3 linked regions of the Homo sapiens genome follow. The protein of the gene in region 2 purifies or fractionates together with the protein of the main gene of each other region. This does not show direct contact. Each region holds a gene or a part of one and is shown on either strand. Other genes may lie near its edges.

Evidence for each region. The genes of interacting proteins can lie anywhere in the genome.
Region 1: the proteins of ZNF462 (region 2) and D2HGDH purify together in Homo sapiens (affinity purification with mass spectrometry; 3 studies listed by BioGRID and IntAct, with this or other methods). This does not show direct contact.
Region 3: the proteins of ZNF462 (region 2) and ZNF644 purify together in Homo sapiens (affinity purification with mass spectrometry; 3 studies listed by BioGRID and IntAct, with this or other methods). This does not show direct contact.

Annotation. Positions count from the first base shown.
Region 1 is NC_000002.12:241,730,196-241,737,637, forward strand, and holds the start of D2HGDH (D-2-hydroxyglutarate dehydrogenase, mitochondrial isoform 1 precursor), read left to right. Parts: upstream 1-4,434; 5' UTR 4,435-4,500; intron 4,501-4,937; 5' UTR 4,938-5,029; coding exon 5,030-5,321; intron 5,322-7,442.
Region 2 is NC_000009.12:106,929,145-106,936,170, reverse strand, and holds part of ZNF462 (zinc finger protein 462), read right to left. Parts: coding exon 6,412-7,026; intron 5,647-6,411; coding exon 5,482-5,646; intron 3,909-5,481; coding exon of another isoform or gene 3,726-3,908; coding exon 3,622-3,725; intron 669-3,621; coding exon 550-668; intron 1-549. UniProt on the Homo sapiens protein: Zinc finger nuclear factor involved in transcription by regulating chromatin structure and organization. Involved in the pluripotency and differentiation of embryonic stem cells by regulating SOX2, POU5F1/OCT4, and NANOG.
Region 3 is NC_000001.11:91,012,028-91,019,053, forward strand, and holds part of ZNF644 (zinc finger protein 644), read right to left. Parts: intron 1-7,026.

The DNA of each region.
Region 1 (7,442 bases), on a different chromosome or scaffold from region 2:
CGGAGCTTGCTGGCTGGGGGTCTGGGGAGGACCCTGTGCCTTACCTTGGGTGGTTGCTCAGGAAGCTCAGTGGCCAGTGCTGGGGCTCAAGTTGACTTCCAAGGAAGACGTGTGAGAATGCTGCAGTTGCTTTCTTTTTTTTTTGTTTGAGACGGAGTCTCACTCTGTTGCCCAGGCTGGAGTGCAGTGGTGCAATCTCTGCTCACTGCAAGCTCCGCCTCCCAGGTTCACGCCATTCTCCTGCCTGTGTCCCGAGTAGCTGGGACTACAGGCGCCCACCACCATGCCCGGCTAATTGTTTGTATTTTTAGTAGTGACAGGGTTTCACCGTGTTAGCCAGGATGGTCTCGATCTCCTGACCTCGTGATCCGCCTGCCTCGGCCTCCCAAAGTGCTGGGATTACAGGCGTGAGCCACCACGCCCGGCCGCTGCAGTTGCTTTCTAAAGGAGTACTGTGCTTGCTCTGGAAGGGCAAGACTTACCGTGTTGCACTTGCCTTTTGGAAGCTGCTGGAGTCAGCTTAGGCTCTGTATTAGTCCATTCTTGTATTGCTATAAAGAACGACCTGAGACTGTGTAATTTATAAAGAAATGAGGTTTAATTGACTCACAGTTCTGCAGGCTGTACAGGAAGCGTGGTGCGGAGGCCTCAGGAAACTTACATCATGGCAGAAGGCGGAGGGGAAGCAAGCACGTTTTACCACGGCAGACCAGGAGAGAAAGGGAGCAAAGGGGAAAGGTGCCACACTTTTAAACAAGCAGGTCTCCTGAGAGTTCACTTACCTCCACAAGAACAGCAAGGGGAAATCTGCGCCCATGAGCCAGTCACCTCCTACCAGGCCCCTCCCCCAACATTGGGGATTATGGGCGGGGACACAAATCCAAACCATATCAGGCTGTTATCACAATACCACAGACTGGGAGGCTTAAGAAAAATGTCTTATATTTCTGGAGATTGGAAGTCCAAGATTAAGGCGCTGGGGTTGTCTGGTGCCTGTCCAGGGCTCTTCCCTTGGGTTGTGAACACTGCCTTCTCATGTGTGCCTACGAAACTGACTGGGAGAGGGAGCTCTCTGGTGTCTCTTATTTTACGGATGCCTGTCCTGTCGGATCAGGACCCCACCCTTGTGACTGACTTTAACCTTAATTACTTCTTCAGAAGTTCCATCTCCAAATACGGCCATATTGGGGGTTACAGCTTCTGCATACGAATTCTGGGGGACACAAACATAACAGGAGCTGATGGGTCTCAAGATGTTGCCTTGAGGAGTGCATTAACAGAACCCGGGAAGAGCTTGGTCATCACGAGGTACAGTCGGCCTCTCACCCACCGTCCAGGTGAAAACCAATCCGTAGACTGGAGTCCTCGCTGGAAGAGGAGGCTGAGATGCTGGGGGAAGGCCCCACAACGCCGAAACCAGCACCTGCCATCTCGCTGGAAGAGGAGGCTGAGATGCTGGGGGAAGGCCTCACAATGCGGAAACCAGCACCTGCCATCTCGCTGGAAGAGGAGGCTGAGATGCTGGGTGAGGGCCCCACAACGCTGAAACCAGCACATGCCGTATTTTCCTCCAAGCATTCTCTGAGGGTACATGTGGGCTTTGCTAGGGTGACTATGCCCTGGGAAAAAGAAAAATCAGTTGTTATTATTTTCTGAGACAGTTTTTTTTTTTTTTTTTTGAGACAGAATCTCACTCTGTCGCCAGGCTGGAGTGCAGTGGCGTGATCTCAGCTTACTGCAACCTCTGCCTCCCAGGTTCAAGCCATTCTCTTGCCTCAGTCTCCCAAGTAGCTGGGATTATAGGCACCGACCACCATGCCCAGCTAATTTTTGTATTGTTGGTAGAGACAGGGTTTCACCATGTTGGCCAGGTTGGTGTAGGGACCAGCCCCACAGGGTCGGTGGGTCTCTCCCCATGTGCGGAGACGAGAGAGTACAGAAATAAAGACACAAGACAGAGATAAAAGAAAAGGCAGCTGGGCCTGGGGGACCACTACCATTAAGTTGCGGAGACCGGTAGTGGCCCCGAATGCCAGGCTGCACTGATATTTATTGGATACAAGACAAAGGGTCAGGATAAGGAGAGTGAGCCATCTCCAATGATAGGTAAGGTCATGTGGGTCACGTGTCCACTGGACAGGGGCCCTTCCCTGCCTGGCAGCCGAGGCAGAGAGAGAGAGGAGACAGAGAGACAGCTTACGCCATTATTTCTGCTTATTAGAGACTTTTAGTACTTTCACTAATTTTGCTACTGCTATCTAGAAGGCAGAGCCAGGTGTACAGGATGGAACATGAAGGCGGACTAGGAGCGTGACCACTGAAGCACAGCATCACGGGGAGACGGTTAGGCCTCCGGATAACTGCGGGCGAGCCTGACTGATGTCAGGTCCTCCACAAGAGGTGGAGGAGTACAGTCGTCTCTAAACTCCCCCGGGGAAAGGGAGACTCCCTTTTCCGGTCTGCTAAGTAGCGGGTGGTGTTTCTTGACACTTTTCGCTACCGCTAGACCACGGTCCGCTAGGTAACGGGTGTCTTCCCAGACGCTGGCGTCACCGCTAGACCAAGGAGCCCTCTGGTGGCCCTGTCTGGGCATAACAGAAGGCTCGCACTCTTCTGGTCACTCCTCACTATGTCCCCTCAGCTCCTATCTCTGTATGGCCTGGTTTTTCCTAGGTTATGATTGTAGAGCGAGGATTATTATAATATTGGAATAAAGAGTAATTGCTACCAACTAATGATTAATGATATTCATATATAATCATATCTAAGATCTATATCTGGTATAACTATTCTTATTTTATTATACTGGAACAGCTCGTGTCTTCGGTCTCTTGCCTCGGCACCTGGGTGGCTTGCCGCCCACAGTTGGTATCGAACTCCTGACCTCAGGTGATCCACCTGCCTCAGCCTCCCAAAGTGCTGGTATTATGGGCGTGAGCCACCGTGCCTGGTCAGAAAAATCAGTTATTTTAGGGGATGGTATGGGTGGTAATCTTTATGGGTTTTGAATCATTCCTAATCCCAGGGGTCCAAGATGCCACTGGCCTGCTAGTCAAAGGGAGGGCGTGTGGAGGTCAGGTGGTAAGGGGGTCCACAGACCTCATCTGTGGTCGTCTTTCCAGTTCCTGAATGTGTAATTGCAACAGTTACCCTTGACAATGGGCAAACTCCCACACTCATCTGCAGAGCAAGGGCCAGCCAGGTAGGAAGGGCCAGGTGGATGTCTCCTTTCCAGGGTTGTATGAATGATTCACCTGGGAAGAAGGTGAGTGGCCTCTGGGGATGTGGTTAAGGAGGACAGGAATGACTCCTTGCAACTGCTGCTCCAGAGCCTCATCACCAGGACAAATCCAGCTCGCCGGTTTTCTGTGTGACTACCAGGACCCATCTGCTGTCACGGGCGTAGCCTCCACCTCTTGCACAGCTCCGCAGTCCTGCCTCGGGCCAAGTGTGGTCTCCTGCTCTCTGCCCTCATCTGCTCAGAGATTGGCATCCTCTGCACCCGCTAGGGTTCTATGGAATTGGGTGAGCTGAAGTAACAAGTGCTTTGGGAGGCCGACGCGGGCGGATCGCTTGAGTCCAGGAGTTCGAGACCAGCCTGGGCAGCACATGAGACCTCATCTCTACAAAAATACAACAACAACAAAAAATTAGCCGGGTGTGGTGGTGCACGCCCGTAGTCCCAGCTACTTGGGTGGCCGAGGTGGGAGGATGGTTTGAGCTCGGGAGGCAGAGGTTGCAGTGAGCTGAGATCAACCCCAGAACTCCAGCCTGGGCAACAGAGCTAGACCCTGTCTCAAAAAAACACAAAACAAGTGCTGGCGATGCCTCAGGCAGGGGATCCCAGGCCGGGAGGCTCCTCGGGACAGCAGTTACTGCGTCAGGAGGGCAGGAGCTCCCCAGGTGTGCAAAGGGTTTGAGGGCACGGAGGGCTGAACAGGCAGAAGGGACAGGGAGGCAAGAAAACACCTGCAGGAGGCAGCTGCCCCCTAAGCTAAGGCTGGGGACCCAGGAGGGGTGGTCCGTGCAGGAGCTGGGGAGGCCGCTGGGGAAAGGGGCGCCCCCTGGGCTCGGCCTCGGAGGAGCGGGCCGGCCCCCAGGTCCCTCGGCCGAGCCCACGTCCCGGGCCTCGTTCTGGAGAACCCTCCAGCTGCTGCTTGGGCGTCTTGGGCTGCGCTCAGCCTAGTCCCTTCTCTACCTGGAGGGATGCGCCCGACAGCCGGCGCGCCGGAGGCCCTCAGGAAACGCAGGACGAGGCGGTGGCCGTCGAGCCTCCGGTGCCAGTCGGGGCGGGGCTTGGACGGCGGGGCGGGGACTGTAGGCGCGCAGGGCTGGGCCTGGAGGGCAGGCGGGGCGGGGCCCGTTAGGCGCGCGGGGCGGGGCTTCGGCCGCTGGGCGGAGCCGTCAATGCGCAGGCGCGGCGTCGCCCCGCCCACTCCGGCTCGGCGGCTCTGGGCCTGCGGCGGGCGCTGCGGGTTGGAGCTCGGGACGTGATCGTGGGTGCGTGCGCGCGGCCGCGCGGAGCGCTGGGCTGAGGGTCCCGGTCTGCGGTTCAGCCGCGGGTCGGGGTGGCGGGGCGCGATCTCGGGCGCCGTCAGCCAGTCGGTGCCTGTGGGGGGAGGGGGACGGCGCTGCAGCTCGTCACGTGACCGCGTGGAACACGCGCGCGCGTCCGCGGGATCCCCTCGGGGGGCGAGCTCGGAGGAACGGGGTCCTGGGCAAGGTCCCGGCGAGGCCGCCCCGAGCCTGCGCGTCGCTAAGTCCAGGCCTGCTGCGTGGGGCTTCGCGCGCTCGCGGGGTTGCGGCCCGGGCAGGGGGAGGGCCCGGGTGCTCGGAGCCTTCCCTTCGCTGCCCTCCTGCCCCCTCCCTGCTTCTGCAAGCGTGTTTCAATTTGTACAACGTGCATAAAACATGAAATTACCCTTGGCCACTTCCAGGCGCGCAGCCAGCGGCTCCCTGCCCTTCCCCTCCGGGCCCTGAGTACCGGCCCCCCACCAAGGAGGAGCCCGAGGTCTCCGTCCCGGCGGCGATGCTGCCCCGTCGGCCTCTGGCGTGGCCCGCGTGGCTGTTGCGGGGTGCTCCGGGAGCCGCGGGTTCTTGGGGTCGGCCGGTTGGCCCCCTGGCCCGCAGAGGCTGCTGCTCCGCCCCGGGGACCCCCGAGGTGCCGCTGACCCGGGAGCGCTACCCCGTGCGGCGCTTGCCGTTCTCCACGGTGTCTAAGCAGGACCTGGCCGCCTTTGAGCGCATCGTGCCCGGCGGGGTCGTCACGGACCCGGAAGCGCTGCAGGCTCCCAACGTGGACTGGTTGCGGACGCTGCGAGGTGGGTGAGGCTTGGGAAGCTGCGGCGTTTCCGCGTCCCTGCTCCGCTGCGCCTTCCCGTGGAGGCTTCAAAGCGGGCTGAGAACAACCTGGATGGGGGTGCCAGCCCCTGGCTGCGCTGAGAGGGGCGTGTGCACCGCCACAGGCTGCTGGAATGAATGACCACGAACGAGTCGCTTAGAACAACCCAAGTTTTGTTGTTGTTGTTGTTTTGTTTTTTCTTTTTTTTAAGACGGAGTCTCACTCTGTCGCCAGGCTGGAGTGCAGTCACGGAGTTTCACTCTGTCGCCAGGCCGGAGTGCAGTGGCGCGACGTCGGCTCACTGCCACCTCTGCCTCCCGGGTTCAAGCGATTTGCCTGCCTCAGCCTCCCTAGTAGCTGCGACTACAGGCGCCCGCCACCACGTTCCGCTAATTTTTGTATTTTTAGTAGAGACAGGGTTTCACCATGTTGGCCAGGATGGTCTCGATCTCTTGACCTCGTGATCCGTCCGCCTCGGCTTCCCAAATTGCTGGGATTACAGGCGTGAGCCACCCCGCCCTGCCAACAACCCAAGTTTGCCTGGCGCAGTGGCTCTGCCTGTAATCTCAGCTGCCCTGGAGGCTGAAGCCAGGAGTTCAAGACCAGCCTGGGCAACATAGCCAGAACCCCCGCCCCACTCACCTCTAAAAATAAAAATAAATAAATAAAAGTAGCCGGCCCAGGATTGAAAAAACAAAAAGTAAAAAAGTTACTCCAGCCCAGGAGTTCCAGTTTTAGTGGACTATGATCTCACCACTGCATTCCAGCCTGGGCAACAGAGCAAGACTACATCTCTAAAACAAAACAGAATTCCCCTCCCCACCAAACCCCACAAGTTTGTTCTCTAAGCTCTGGAGGCCAAAAGTGTGAAATCAGGGTATCACAGGGCTGCGCTCCCTCCAAAGCCTCCAGAGGAGGCTCCTTCCTGCCTCTTGTAGCTCTAGCTCCTGGTGGCCCCAGGTACCAAATTACTCCAGTCTCTGCCTCTGTTTTTCATACAGGTTTTTCTTCTCTGTGACTCTTCTCCAGTTGTCTTATAAAGACACTTCTCATTGGATTGAGGGCCCACCCTAATCCAGGATGATCGTATCTCAGTACTGTCAACTTAATTACATCTGCAAAGACCGTTTATCCGTTTTTTTTTTTTTTGGAGATGAAGTCTCACTCTTTTTGCCCAGGCTGGAGTGCAATGGTGCAATCTTGGCTCACTGCGACCTTCCCCTCCTGGGTGTAAGCAATTCAGCCTCCCAAGTAACTGGGATTACAGGTGCCCGCCACCATGCCCGGCTAATTTTTGTATTTTTAGTAGAGACGGGGTTTCACCATGTTGACCACGCTGGTCTCGAACTCCTGACTTCGGGTGATCCACTCACATTGGCCTCCCAAAGTGCTGAGATGACAGGCATGAGCCACTGCACTTAGCTGGACCGTTTTTTCTTTTTGTTTTTTTGAGACGGAGTCTCGCTCTGTTGCCCAGGCTGGAGTGCAGTGGCGTGATCTCGGCTTACTGCAAGCTCCGCCTCCTGGCTTCACGCCATTCTCCTGCCTCCGCCTCCCGAGTAGCTGGGACTACAGGCGCCCGCCACCACGCCCGGCTCATTCTTTTTGTATTTTTAGTAGAGACAGGGTTTTATCGTGTTAGCCAGGATGGTCTCAATCTCCTGACATCGTGATCCGCCTGCCTCGGCCTCCCAAAGTGCTGGGATTACAGGCATGAGCCACCATGCCCAGCCCCATTTTTTCAAATAAGGTCCCATTCACAGGTCTTGGGGCATTGGGAAGCAGACGTATCTTTTTGGAGCCCATTAGGTAAGATGCAGGGCTCCTGGCCAACAATGCCTGCTCCTCTCCTCCCACTGCACTTCTGCCCAGTGGCATACAAGTCTGTGCACGAATGAGGGACTTCTCAGCCTCTGGGGCTGGCACTTCCTTTTGGTAACAGTGCCCAGTTTTCTCTTTTTTTATTTTTTTGAGATGGAGTCTTGCCCTGTCACTCAGGGTGGAGTGCAGTGGCACGATCTCCCCTTACTGCAACCTCCACTTCCTGGGGTCAAGCGATTTTCCTGTCTCAGCCTCCTGAGTAGCTGGGACTACAGCTGGG
Region 2 (7,026 bases):
TTTTTCTAATGAGTAATGAGATGGAACAACAATATGATAGAGACCAGCACAGCTGCTGGACACTCACAACCCAAAGTCATTTCTGTCTTATGTACGGAAACATATCTAAGGGTATCTCTTGAAAAATCTCACACATCTTGAGTTCCCTTTGCCCTTTCTAACTTCCTTAAGTTGGTAACTTTATTTTAGCTGGAAAGTCTTTTTAATAGATATAACAATTCTTGGCAATTGAATTAGAAAGTATAGGCAGTTTAGAAATTTCTGTAAAAATCACCAACAGTCTAATTCTAACTTGTCAGTAGGACGAACGAACTAACCATAACATGGGTGACATAGGCTTTGTATTATTTTGGATTTAGGTGATTTTGTTTAACTTTTACTTTTTTCTTTATTTTTTCTTTACTAGGTAAAAATAAAACTGAATATACATCCATCCCAAGAATAACATTCTCAAGTGTAAGGCAGGACAGTATTTCACTCAATAAAGATCATCAGGTTTCAAACTCAGAGAGTGCTAAAGAACTTGTGCATCATCAATGCACAACTCACCAGCATGAGCTTTGAGTATATGTGTTTTCAGCCGGCTGTTATAGGAGGACTTGAAGGAGCAGAGTTTGCATCGGAATGGTTTATGGTGTCCGTGGTGGGTTTGCATATGGCGATCCAAACTTGATGTAGAAGGAAAACAAAAAGAAAAATGACAAAATTAAAAATTGCATAGAGGATTTGCTCATTGCTTTTTTTCCAGGAATCCTACTTCTAGGTCGTTCAAAGTCCTTTTGTTTACTTTCCAATAATGGCATTTATCAATTTAATTAATTAATTTTCAAGAGTTGTACCTACTCTAAGAGGACAGGAAGCTAAAGGAAGAGATCAAGAGTTTTTTTTGGATTTAGAGATATGGCAGTGGTAACAGGTCATGGTAAGAATCTTTATTGTCCCTTCTTAGAGCTCTGATCATTGGAAGAGTGTATCTAAAGAGAAGGTACAATATGGGTGAATTCAAGCTTCCTGCCAAGCCAGTGAGAGTGCCTATCAATTAGTCCTCTAACTTATTCAAATAACAGAATGGGAATTAGAGAAATTTAGCATTTGAAAAGAGCTGACTTTCTTTTTGAATTCTAATTCTACTTTCATTGTGAACACTAGAGTGAGGAAGGGAGGTTTCGAAGTGGCTGACCTTCTTGCAATGGGCTGTCTTGTTGCCAGGGTCTATATTAATATGGAGGCACAGTGCATGCATGTTTAAAGGAGCCACGTGGTCAAAAGGCCGCACATCCCTTCTGATACACACAACCATGTTTGCTGTAAGTCTTCCAGAAGCAATTTACAAGGGAGTTATTTAATTACAACGAACCCCTAGTACTTCATAATAATTATTAGCCTAAAAAAATAATAAATCTACCAAACAAGGTGTGGGAAGTTCTAATTTGTATCAGCACTCCAGAGAACTAAATTCCCTTCTAAATGCCTCATGTGGGAACGGTACTGCTTACCATTTCAACATATAATGCTGTCCTGAGCTCCAAAGCAACATTTTCAATTGCCCCTGGACAGCTCCCTCTGGGTGTCCTTTAGTTCTCTTTAACTCAACCTGTTCTAAACAAACCCATCAGAGAGTTTTCTACAAAACAAATTCTCTTCTTCATTTCCTTGTTTCTATAAATGGCACTAACCTTTCTTCCAGATGAGTAAACTGAAAACCTAGTTGCCATTTGTATTTTACTTTGTCCCTCATCCCACGCATGAAGTCAATTTTTCCAAGTCAGGCAAATCCATTCCTTCAATCATTCCCTAACTTCTTGAACTAGCTACTATTATTGCTTCTTAATTCCTTGTCCCCCAGCCCCCATGGATTTTTTTTTTTTTTTTTTCATCTCAAGAGCACACGCTATGGAGTCAGACTACCTGGGATAAAATCTCAGCCATTACATATAGGCTGTGTGTCCTTGGGCAAATTACTTAATTTTTCTAGGCTTTACTCTTCTTATTCATAAGATGATAATAATGGGGCCATACCTTATAGGAGAGTTTTGAGAATGAAATTAAGTAATATTTAAAGGCCCTTAGTACAGTGCCTGGTATATAGTGAGATGCAATAAATGTTAGCAATTATAATTATTTTGCTAATTTGACTCTTCCTTTTACCAGCAATTTAAATTATGAAATACTATTTCCTGGCATTTAAAACTCCAAATATGGTCTCCTTTAAAGTATTTAGACCTTATCTTTCACTATTCCTTTACATGTAACTTAAGGATTAGTCAAACTGAACCCCCAGCTAGGGCCCCAGTCAGCTTCATGGTCTCCTCCCTCAGCTTTTCCTCTACATCATATGTCCTTTCCAAACTATTCAAGTCCTATTTTCCTACTTTAAGACTTCACCCAAATGCTCCTTATGCCATAAAACCTTCCTGACTCTTCCAAAGCTGATGTAACATTTCTCTTCTTTGACACATCATAGTATTTTACTGATATTTTCAAAGACGTGCTTTATTTTGATGAGTCAGTGGGTTTTGTTTTGTTTTTTTTTAATTTCATAAACCAACCCTTGACCCTAAATTCCCCTGGCCACAGACCATGGCCTGTGTCTTTATATTTCCCAAAAGTACAGTACCTAGGACAGGATATATTCATTTATTCACAATTATTTAAAGTTCCACTGTGCGTCAGACAATGTGATAGATGCTGTTCAATAAATACTTCTTGAATTGAAGTATTTCAAGTTTTATGCCAATGTATGGATCTGATGACAAAGATTAGATATTAGGCTCTGTATAATAATAAAGTGTTTACAACCCATCCTAACCTCTGTGAAAACACCACCTCCTTCTTCTGTTCAACAACCACTAACTGGCCCTTTATCTTTTGTAAGAAGCAAATAGTCCATCATTTATTTCATTAAAAAAATTGTTTTAAAAAGCATGTCAGTCTTAGTCACCTTTATCCAAGACTGTCCAAACGCATTATTGAATATTTATCTCTCTTTTACACGGCTGAAAGAGAAAGGCAACAAAAAGTTGTTCTTAAAACCACCCCTCTTTCCATGGCCCCAAAAAGCCTTACACACCTATTCCATATTTACACTTTCAAAGCTGTGATGAGTAATGGGAAGCTCCCTCTCCTCAATCTCCCTGTATGTCAAGCAACTCTTTGGCATCCATGAACTTCTTTACCTTTCAAGATCTTTTGAAAAATTGCAAGCAATGTTTCTTTGGTCACATGGGTTAATAGTCCTAATTTTACCTCTTTAGCAACTCAGTTTTCTAAATGGACTTTACTTCCTCAAACAATGACTAGATTTTGGCTGAATGTTTGAACGATGAATCAGGAGACTCATCTACTCTCCACAGATGCCATTTTACCTTTGGGTAAATCATAGCAATTCCTCCAATTCTCATTTTTAAAATGCCTGCATTTGCCAAATCTAACGCCATCCGATCAATCTCCTGTTCTCAGCCCCATTTTACAGAAAAGGTGACTGAGGCTCCAGGTAACATAGCAGCAGGTGTGAACCATGAGTGGGGCCTTCTTACTCATCCAAGCTTCTGCTTTAGCTTAGTGCCTTCCACTATGACATCATCTCCCAGTAACCACTAGTGACCCCCCAATAGCACTTACTTGTGCCTGAAAGCAGAAACAAACGAGCAATACTGGCAGCTGTACTTGTCCTCGCGGGTAAACATGGCCAGGGCCAGGTGGCTCCTCTCATGAGAACGCAGCCCCTGCATGGACATCAGGACTCTGTCACATTGACTGCAATGGTATCCCCCCGGCCGGGTTTCATCCTCCAACATTCCATCAAGCAAGCAGTGTTCACCATCCACCCGGCCCACCAGGGCGCCACTGGCGTCTTTGGCTGCTTCCAATCCATCCAGGAACAAGTGGGCAGGGTCATCCGCCTCCTGCTAAGAGAACCACACACACACACATGCCCCACCAACAAAATAAATATCCATCATCATTGCCTCCAGCTTTCTTTTTCTCCCTACATTCTCCCAAACTCAACAGCACTTCTTGTCAAAGCTTCCTCCCCTGCCTCTCCAGCTACCCCTAGAGGGAGAGCAAGCCCAACTGCCATTCTTCATGCAGTGGAGGTGATTTTAGGACAACATACCCGGACACAGGTTGCTACTGTTTGCGAAATGTGAACAAGGGCTTCTCCCACTCTGAAGACACTTCACTCACTTCTTCCCCATCTTAAAAGAAAATTCAAACTGCAACCCCATCTAAGTTGACATAAAGTTGGGCTAGGGTTGTGGCTCACAGAAAGGAGAGGAAGAAAGGAAGAGAAAGAAAAGCAAAGTAGTATGGTCATTGAGGAGCCTTGGGCCATTATCTGGAAAGGAAGCAAAGCAAAAGATCCCGCTGTCTGCCCCCTACCCTGTAGATGGTGACTTCACTCTATGACTGGAGACTGCTGCATAATCAATTCAAAAAATTAAGGAGCAGCCTAGTTTTAAGTCACCTGTTTTTCGAGATAGCTCCTTGGGTTACTGATTACACAGGAAAAGCCCTTCTGTCTCTCTCACATGATCCCAGGAAACGAGCCTGGGACACACCGCAGTGGTGTCTGAAAGAAAGTGACTGCTGATATCCCTGGGTTGCCACTGTTCTGCCAAAAGACAGAAAGCTTCAGTCTTCAGTGAAGAAAAGTAGAGACTTTATCTTCATGTTAAATTGGCAAAATAGGATGTAAGCTCAAGAAGGGCAGATGACAAAAATATGTTCGCGTGTACCCTTAGAGAAAGGGCAGAACCCCAAAATGACTTCTGTTTTAATAAATAATAGGGCTTAGCAATATCCTGGAAGACGGGGATGGTGGCTTGGTTACTGACATGGTGGCTGCTATTAGGATTATGATGTTCAAAACAGGTGGCCTAATAAAAGTCAGAGGGAAAAGGGAAGACACTTGTCAGCATCATATGGGAGAGGGGATGGAGGAGACAAACCAAGGCTTTCAGGGTCAATTGCGACTTGAACGCTTTTAGTTTTAATGTCTCTTGCAGTCCCCAGAGGACCCAGGATAAGAAGACAAAGAGATTCTCCTAGGCTCTCTGCATCCTCAGCCAGATGAGAACAGTAAGAAGTCAGGAAGAAAGAGGAGCAGAAGATGATGGGAACAGAACCCACTTGATTCCTCTCAAGAGCTCGGGCAACTTGGAAGAACGAAGAGCTAATGGCACTAAACGCAGAATAGAAGGACGACCCGAAGCCTCCTAGACCGAGAATCCTGGACCTTCTGCTGCCACCAAACTATCCGCGTGGAAGGAAACCAGATCGAAACTCGACCTTTCCCTGAACAGAAAGATGAGGAAGGTCCAACCTGCAAAGAAATCAAAACAAGCCAAACCAATCCAAGCATAATTCAGGAATGCCCGCATTCTGAGATGCTCTTTCCTGAGCTGCTTTAGGCAATGGGGTTAATAAGTAACTCGAATCGCTCACACACAATGCTCATCCAGACCTTCCAGTTCTCACCTTCACAGCAGCTGACACAGCTGGGACATTGCCATACTGGACGTGCTTTCGGAGGTGATTGCAGATGGCTCGGAGCGTTGGGTGCACTTCCACACAGAATTTACATTTGTAGCCCACCACTTTCCTCTCCTTGATCTTTGGCACCTCTTCTAAGTGACCAAAAGGCTGGTAAAATACAGTGGTAGCCATCAGTACTCCGAGCCCTCCCTCAATTGTCAGAATTTATTCTTGCAGTTTACTAACATACTTTATTTTAAAGCCGATTAGCAGGTTAAAAACCAAGGGAGATATAGGCGAGTATTTTTATATAACAAATTTGTCAGCATCATGGCACGCTGCCTACTATGCAAAGTCTTTGAAACCCAAATACATTACGGCTTGTGAGTAGAGAAGATTTCTGTGCAGAAGCTCATCGTCACTGCCACTAAGTCATCTGGTTTTCAAACCAGTTTCAACTAGGCAGGTGAAACGTTGCATAGTTGCGCCATTAATGAACTTCTTGATAAAATAAAATCTACTCCTGGAGACGTTAGGTTCATGTAGCAAACACTGAAGACCAAGACATGGCTGAGAAGTGCTAATGGTACCAAGAGACAGCCCACACTGCCTTAGGAAAGAGCGAGCGTTGTTGTAAAACTAGGCTTCAGATAAAGCTACTTGGCAGAAAGACATACATAGAAACCACCCCAAACCTCCCCTGGGGAGCCATGGGAGGAGTCAAAGGGAAGGAGGGAGGAGAAGGGACCAAGGAGAGGGGTGAGCACAGAATGGGAGATAATCAAGCTCGAAATGTTTAATTGACTTATTGAGCTCTCTGGCAAGCTAAGTCACTAGGAAGCCTGCAGCAGTTTGGCTGGCAACGAAGAAGTGCATGTGGGCACCAGTGATGAGAGGCCTCCTGGGGGAAGGGAAATCAAAACATATCCTTACCCTCTCTTGTTTGAAATCTGCAAAAGCACCATCTGCATATTTCTGCTTGCTCAAAAGCTGTTTCCTCCTCTCCTGACGTTTGGCACGCTTCTGGAATTCCTCATTGTGAATGTTCAAGTGTGAGGTCAGCTCGGCTGTGCTTTGCAGTTTGCTATCACAGTGCTTACACTGGTAGGTGGAGTTCTGCAAGCGGGGGCCGTTGCCCAGAATGATGAAGTCCCTCTTTAGGTCCCGACTGTGGTGGTCAGTGTAATGCATGCACAGCAGCTCTGCAGTGCTAAAGGACAGCTTGAAGCATTTGATGCAGCGGAATGGGAGCCACTCGATTTCCTGAGCTTCACCCTCCACCTCGGCTTTCTCAAAGTTGCCTCTCTCCTCTTCTTCCATCAGTGTGGGCTTCTCATGCTCATCTGCATAGACGGCCGTGAAGTAGCCCCCCAACTTGCTGGCGTGCTGCTTCTTTGGGAACACCCCTGGGTGGCGTTTCATGTAATGGGACACGATGCCCTTCTTGCTGAACGACTGGAAAGAGCACAAGGAGCACTTTTTCTTCTCCACTGCCCGCCGGAGTTCCTCGCTCAGCTGAGGGGAGTCGTCCTTGGGCGGGGATGGGAT
Region 3 (7,026 bases), on a different chromosome or scaffold from region 2:
AAAATATCAAGTCATAAAACTAACCTCTAAAGGATTACTATTAATGAACACTAAGAAGCACCTCTCTGATTTTGTCACTGGGGGGAAAAAAGGGCCATAGTACCAAATATCACCTGATTTACCTCCCAATTCATAACAATGCCAAACAAGGACAGAAGAAAAGAGAGATGGATTCAAGCATCAATTCTCACTACCCTTGGGAGGGAGGACAAATATGCCATAAGAAGTTTAGAAACAAAAACTCCAGCCCGGGCAACATGGTAAAACCCTATCTCTACTACCGAAAGAAAAAAAAAAAAAATCAGCCAGGCATGATGGCATGCACCTGTAGTTCCAGGTACTCAGGAAGCTGAAGGAGGAGGATCGCTTGAGCCTGGGAGGTGAAGGCTGCAGTGAGCTGAGATTGCGCCAATGCACTCCAGCTAGGGTGACAGACTGAGACCCTGTCTCAAAAGAAAAAAAAAGGAAGGAAAAGAAAAAGAAACAAGCAAAAACTAATTTATGGTGATAGAGGTTAGAGGTTAAAATAGTGGTTACTTCTGTAGGGAGAAATTAATAGGAGGGAGCACAAGGCACCTTTAATCAGTGAAGAAAAATATTCTACATCTCTATCTGGGTATTTCATTTAAAATAGGCTCTAATCACGGAAAATGCTTGCATTCCACAATTCTCATGTCTGTGCTTTTTTTACATCCTCTTCTCCCCAGGTGTAACCCAGTACCTCCCACTACCTGGGAGTTACCTAGGTATACTTATATGTATAAATTCACTGAGTTGTACTTAAGATTTGTGCACTTCACTGTATGTTATACCTAAAAAAAATACTTAAAAACAAGTAACCAATTAATAGCTAAATCTAAAAACCTTTTCTCAATTCTCATCCTTCTTTATCAATCTCCATCATATTGTTAATCACAGAACATCAATATTCCCTAAATGAAACACTTTCCCTTTTGAAGATCGACTAGGCTTTGTTAGGATGTTTTTTCCAGCATTTTCTGTAGTGTCATATTAATTCTCTCTAAATATTAATTCAATATTTATCTTTTTTCTTTTGTTTTTTGGAGACTGAGTCTCACTCTGTCGCCCAGGTGGGGATGCAGTGGCATGATCTTGGCTTACTGCAACCTCCGCCTCTCATGTTTAAGCAATTCTCCCGCCTCAGCCTCCCAAGTAGGTGGCATTATAGGTGCACACCACCATGCCCAGCTAATTTTTGTATTTTCAGTAGAGACGGGATATTTCATCATATTGGCCAAGCTGGTCTCAAACTCCTGACCTCAGGCGATCTGCCGACCTCAGCCTCCCATAGTGCTGGGACTACAGGCATGAGCCAATGCACCCAGTTAATTCAGTATTTATCAAGTGCTCATGTATGAGACACGAATTAGGCACCCTCCAATATATATTTCCAATCTCTCTCTCACACACACACACACACACACACACACACACATACACACACACACACACATATACACACCCAAACCAAATTCCCTAAACTGGATTCAAGCCACTCTATTACCTGGTATCAAACTGTATTTGCTGTTTTAATTCCTATCACTTCTTTATGGGAATATTCTTCTCAAGCATTTTCTGTTCTCAGCTATCCTTTACGGTTCAGTTCAATTTCTATGTTATTCTTTCCCTATACCCCATAGGACTTACTATCTGTAATTGCACTGTCCAATACAGTAACTTCATGTGGCTACTGAATACCTGAACTCTGGCTAGTCTGAATTGAGATGTGCTTTAAGTATGTAATACTAACAGATTTTGAAGACTTAACATGGTTAAAAAAAGAAAAAATGTAAAATAGTTCAATCATGTTTATATGATGAAATAATAGTATTTAGATACTGGGTTAAATAAAAATCCATTAATAAAATTTCACCTATTTATTTTATTTTTTGATGTGGCTATAGAAAATCTAAAATTGCATTTGTGGCTCAACTTATATTTCTATTGGGCAGTGCTGACCTATACAATCTATTTATAAATGCCCACAAATTACCTTTTTCTTCTTCTTCTTCTTAAACTGATAAATACAAATTGTATATATTTATGGTGTACAACACATTTTGAAATACATATAAATTATGCAATGGTTAAATCTAGCTAATTAACACATGCATTACCTCACATAGTTATATTTTGTGGTGTGAACACTTAAAATGTACTCTCCTAGCAACTTTCAAGTATGCAATATTAACTATAGTTACTATGCCCCACAAATTATCTCTTAACATATAATGTCATCTTCCCGATGAGTGCCAGAATTCAACATTAAGCTTTTTTCTTTTATGAATTAAATATTATATTAGGAATTACTAATAGTAATTAAGTGCCATTTAATTTTAATATCCCTTTAAGATTTTTAACAAGGAAGTGTAAGGCATTTCAAAGTGTTCAAATATTAAAAAAAAGTTGTTTTCAGATAGCTATAAATTATACAATTTTTCATCTATATTTTACTTATATACAATTCTAAGTCAAATGTCCCACCAGCAAGGATAGATAGCATGATTAAACCTGTAGCAATCCAAATCCCATAAAGTATTAGTTCTGATTAAGCCTGATTTTTTTCATCTTAGTCACTCAGTAAAGGGCAGCATCCATTTTGGTCAACATCATTGTACCAATGTCCAGCAGCCAAGACAAAGAGCCTTTATATGGTGGTATGAATAGACAATGAGAGCAATACGACACCACTTGAAATAAGGGGGGGGAGAAAAATGTTTTTATAATGCTAAGTTTTAAAACTAGGAGATGAAACTTACAAATTGTGTAACAACTAGGTAAAAGGATATATATGTAAGAAGAACAGGAAGGTAGAACAGAAAGGTCTCCTCTCTAGACCTTCTCAAGATATACCTAGGTTCAAACTTGGCTACTCCATTATTAAGTGGATGTGTTTCCTCACATGTAAAGTGGGAATATATACATCACAGGATTATTAAAAGAATATAGTAGATGCTTAATTAACGTCATCTGTCTTTAATACTAATAATTATATAATGGTAATAAGATTATGGGTGACTTCCCCTCCCTCACTTTCCAAATTGCTGTATTTTTCAAGCATAAATGAAAAACTTACAATTTCATACTAGTACCCCTCCTCAAATGAACCTAAAATTATTTTTACTAGCTGTCTTTGACAAATTTGCTTATAAGCTTAAAATCCGTGTTTGTGCTAGGAGGAGGTTGGTGGTAGAAAGAAAATTAAAGAGGGGGAACTGATAACTTTAACACCATACCAGCACAGACATATACAAAACAAAGTGTGGAGAGGAAAAGAGCAAAAGGAAATGCTGTTTGGGAAATTCCCAACTCAGACTATCCAATGAAAAGATTATATTCCACCCGCCTCAATCTAGCTACCTACCAGCCACTCCTCACTCTCATCTTGGGTTTATACGTACATTACAAATACGCATAGCCACTCACCTTCTTCTCTCTACTAATAGTCACCACATGGCCTCACAGTCAAAAATTGAAAGGAGAGTGAAGAAATTCAGCATGTTATAACAAAGACAAACCAATGCACTGGCTGGGAAATAACTTCATTAAAATGTACTCATTCCCAAGTGTATCTACTCATCTGCTGACAGTGCTGGGAATGCATTCCTGAAATATTTAACCTGGTTATAAGATTCTGCTGCTAGAATCAGAGAAGGCACACTTTGATGCCTACCTCTCACTTCCTCTATAACAACCTTGTCTTTATCGGCATGGCTTAAAATGGGACATTAGCAAAAGTATACAACTGCAAATCACTCACAGGTGAAAATCTCAAGTTAATGTAGAAAGAATAATTAAACAATGGTAATAATAACTATTATTACTCTAACAGGTAACACTTACTTTACTCAGCATTGTATGCCAGAAAGCTAAGGACTTTACATGAATTATGTAATATCAACCCTAAACCTCTTTGAAGATGGTAATTACTAATTCCACTTGCCTAGTGCTCACACAGCTAAATCTGAACCCTGTCAATTTTACTTCAAGGCTTACACTTTCAAACTTTATCATATCCTGCCTCTTTATATATGCATAATTACAATTGCAATTGTGATTCTATGTGTGTGTGTGTCTGTGTGTAAAGTATTTAGTGAGTCAGTAGCAAACAAAAGGCAATTAATTCCAACTCTGTGAAGCCTTTTACCCACCTTCACAAACCAACAATAAATTGGGAATTACCCCTCTCCTCCCCAATAAATGGTGCTCTGAAAGTACTAGTTTTACAGTCATACATCACTTAAGCATGGATGTACATTCTGAGAGATGCATTCTTAGGCAATTTGGTCACTGTGCAAACATCACAAAGTGTACTCAAACAAACCTAGATGGTAGAGCCTACTTACACACCTAGGCTACTTGGTATAGCCTATTGTTCCTAGGCTACAACATGCTCCTGTAAAGCATGTTATTGTACTGAATACCACACACAACTGTAACATAACTGTTTAGTATTTGTGTATCTAAACATAGAACATAAAATACAGTAAAAATACAGTATTACAATCTTATGGGACCACCATCGTAAATGCAGTCCACTATTGACCAAAGAACATCATTATGCTGCACATGACTGTATTTAATATCTTCCTCAAGAAACTAATGAAAGAGATACTTTTAAGTAAAATATTAATCTTTTCAAAAAATTAGATAAAATAATTGATAGACTACAGGTAAACATGCTTTGTAAAGTGTAAAGAATTTTAATCAACACTTTATTAGGTATTTTTAATTTTCAGTTGTCTATTTGGCTCAAAATATACTTACGTTTCTAGAGTTTGAACAAAGTCTTTTTTATTTGAGACAGGGTCTCACTCTGTCACCCAGGCTAGAGTGCAGTGGCACGGCATCTCTGCTCACTGAAGCCTCTGCCTCCTGGGTTCAAGTGATTCTCCTGCCTCGGCCTCCCAAGTAGCTGGGACTACAGGCACGTGCCACCATGCCCAGCTAATTTTTGTATTTTTGGTAGAGACAGGGTTTCATCATGTTGACCAGGCTGGTCTCAAACTCCTGACCTCAAGTGATCCACCCACCTTGGCCTCCCAAAGTGCTGGGATTACAGGTGTGAGCCTCCACACCCGGCCTATATAAAGTATTTTAAAAGCTGTATTTTCAACTTAAAAAAAAGATACACATACCAAAAGGCTTAACACATAAAATCTGCCTTCATCACTCTAACCCAGCTTCAATTCTACCAAAATCTAGGCTAACAGAATTAAGCTTCAAGGAACAAATCATTTATCTTTATTTTTACTTACAAAATCTCAGTTCAAAGGATTCCAAATGAAATGGGAAGACCACAGCTAGCAGACAGAAGAGGTAGGGCCAAGATTAGTAGGAGAGGGGAAAGAAAATCTCCCAGAAACGCTAATCTTAATCCAGTCTCACTTTCTCCCAACCAAGAGAAGTGTGCACTGCTGCTACTTCTGCCCTGGCAGGCTCCTCCTCCTCTTACTCTTGAAATCCTCTGCTTTTTTCCTCCTGGAAAGTTACTCTCACAGGGCTGTTTTTCTTCCTAACATCTCTCAATTGTCAAAGGATTTCTTATCTTGAAATTAAAAGAATAAAAATATACTAACTTTCCATAATCACATAAGAGTTCCCAGGAAGTTCAAAAAGGATAGTAACTACTGCCAGGTGCGGTGGCTCACGCCTGTAATCCCAGCACTTTGGGAGGCCAAGGCGGGTGAATCACCTGAGGTCAGGAGTTCGAGACCAGCCTGGCCAACATGATGAAACCCCATCTCTACTAAAAATACAAACATTAGCCAGGTGTGGTGGCCGGCGCCCGTAATCCCAGCTACTTGAGAGGCTGAGACAGGAGAATCACTTGAACCTGAGAGGCAGAGGTTGCAGTGAGCCAAGATTGCACCACTGCACCCGCGCCTGGGAAACAGACCGAGACTCCGTCCCCCAACCAAAAAGAAAGAAAAAGAAAGGATAGTAACTCCATGGTTCAACTTGGCAGATCTGCAAAAAAAATTATAATGCAGCAACTAAGGCCTTAGAGACAAGAAAACACCTTTTTCATGGGAACTTCCTCTCCCTGAAGAAAGACAGAATTTAATTTAGAGTCTTACTACCCTCTGGGTCTCCTGTGATCTTCATGTTTGTTTCTTAAGGGGAAGAGGAGAAATCTTTTAGCCAACCAGCAGGGTGAGCTAGTGCTAGCATCAGTTCCATGATTCTCAAATCTCCCAAAACTCAATGGTGTAAACGGCTTGCACTATTAACAGCAGCTATTTATTTCCCTCTAATAAACCTGAATCAAAAACACCACTTCTAGAACTGCTTCAGTCAATGCTATACCTGACAACTTTACTCAATATTTACAGATTCTCCATATACGAAATAGACATTCTCTCTACCAGAAAGATTAATAAGTGTAAATAAAAGCTCATTTGAATATGTATCCATAGTATTACAGTATCCACTCTTCATTCTCGTTTTATTTTACAAGGTTACTAATTTAAAACATTTAGAAAACAGTTTAAAAAATGGTTAAAACAAGTGCTCTATAAAATCAGGGTTAGATAACTCAACATGCCAATTTCTCCATTTGCTGCAAGCTACAATTGTCTTAAGACCTGACTGAAAAGCCTTCCCAAGAATAAGATTCACTTTTCCTTCCAGAATCACATCCTGAGAAAATGGTCTAAATAAGTAACACTAAAAAACAATATTTAGGATGACAGAAAAAAAATGGACCTGACCTTTCTCTAGATTGCAGATATCCCACCACTTCTATTCTCTTTGAAACTTTCTTTTCTCCTCCTGCTACCCATTAACAGTCTCAATTCAACCAAAACACTCTTATAACTTGAATGACAAACTAAAACTGGAAAATGTTTAAGGTTGGCAGGTGACAGACCACTTTATAACTACAAATAACCTGAAAGTGACTCTAATTTTCACAAAATGAAAGTGTAAGTAAATCCACTCACATAATGTTGAAAATTATAAAACAGCTTATCAACTAACAAAAATCAGTAATTTAAAAGCACC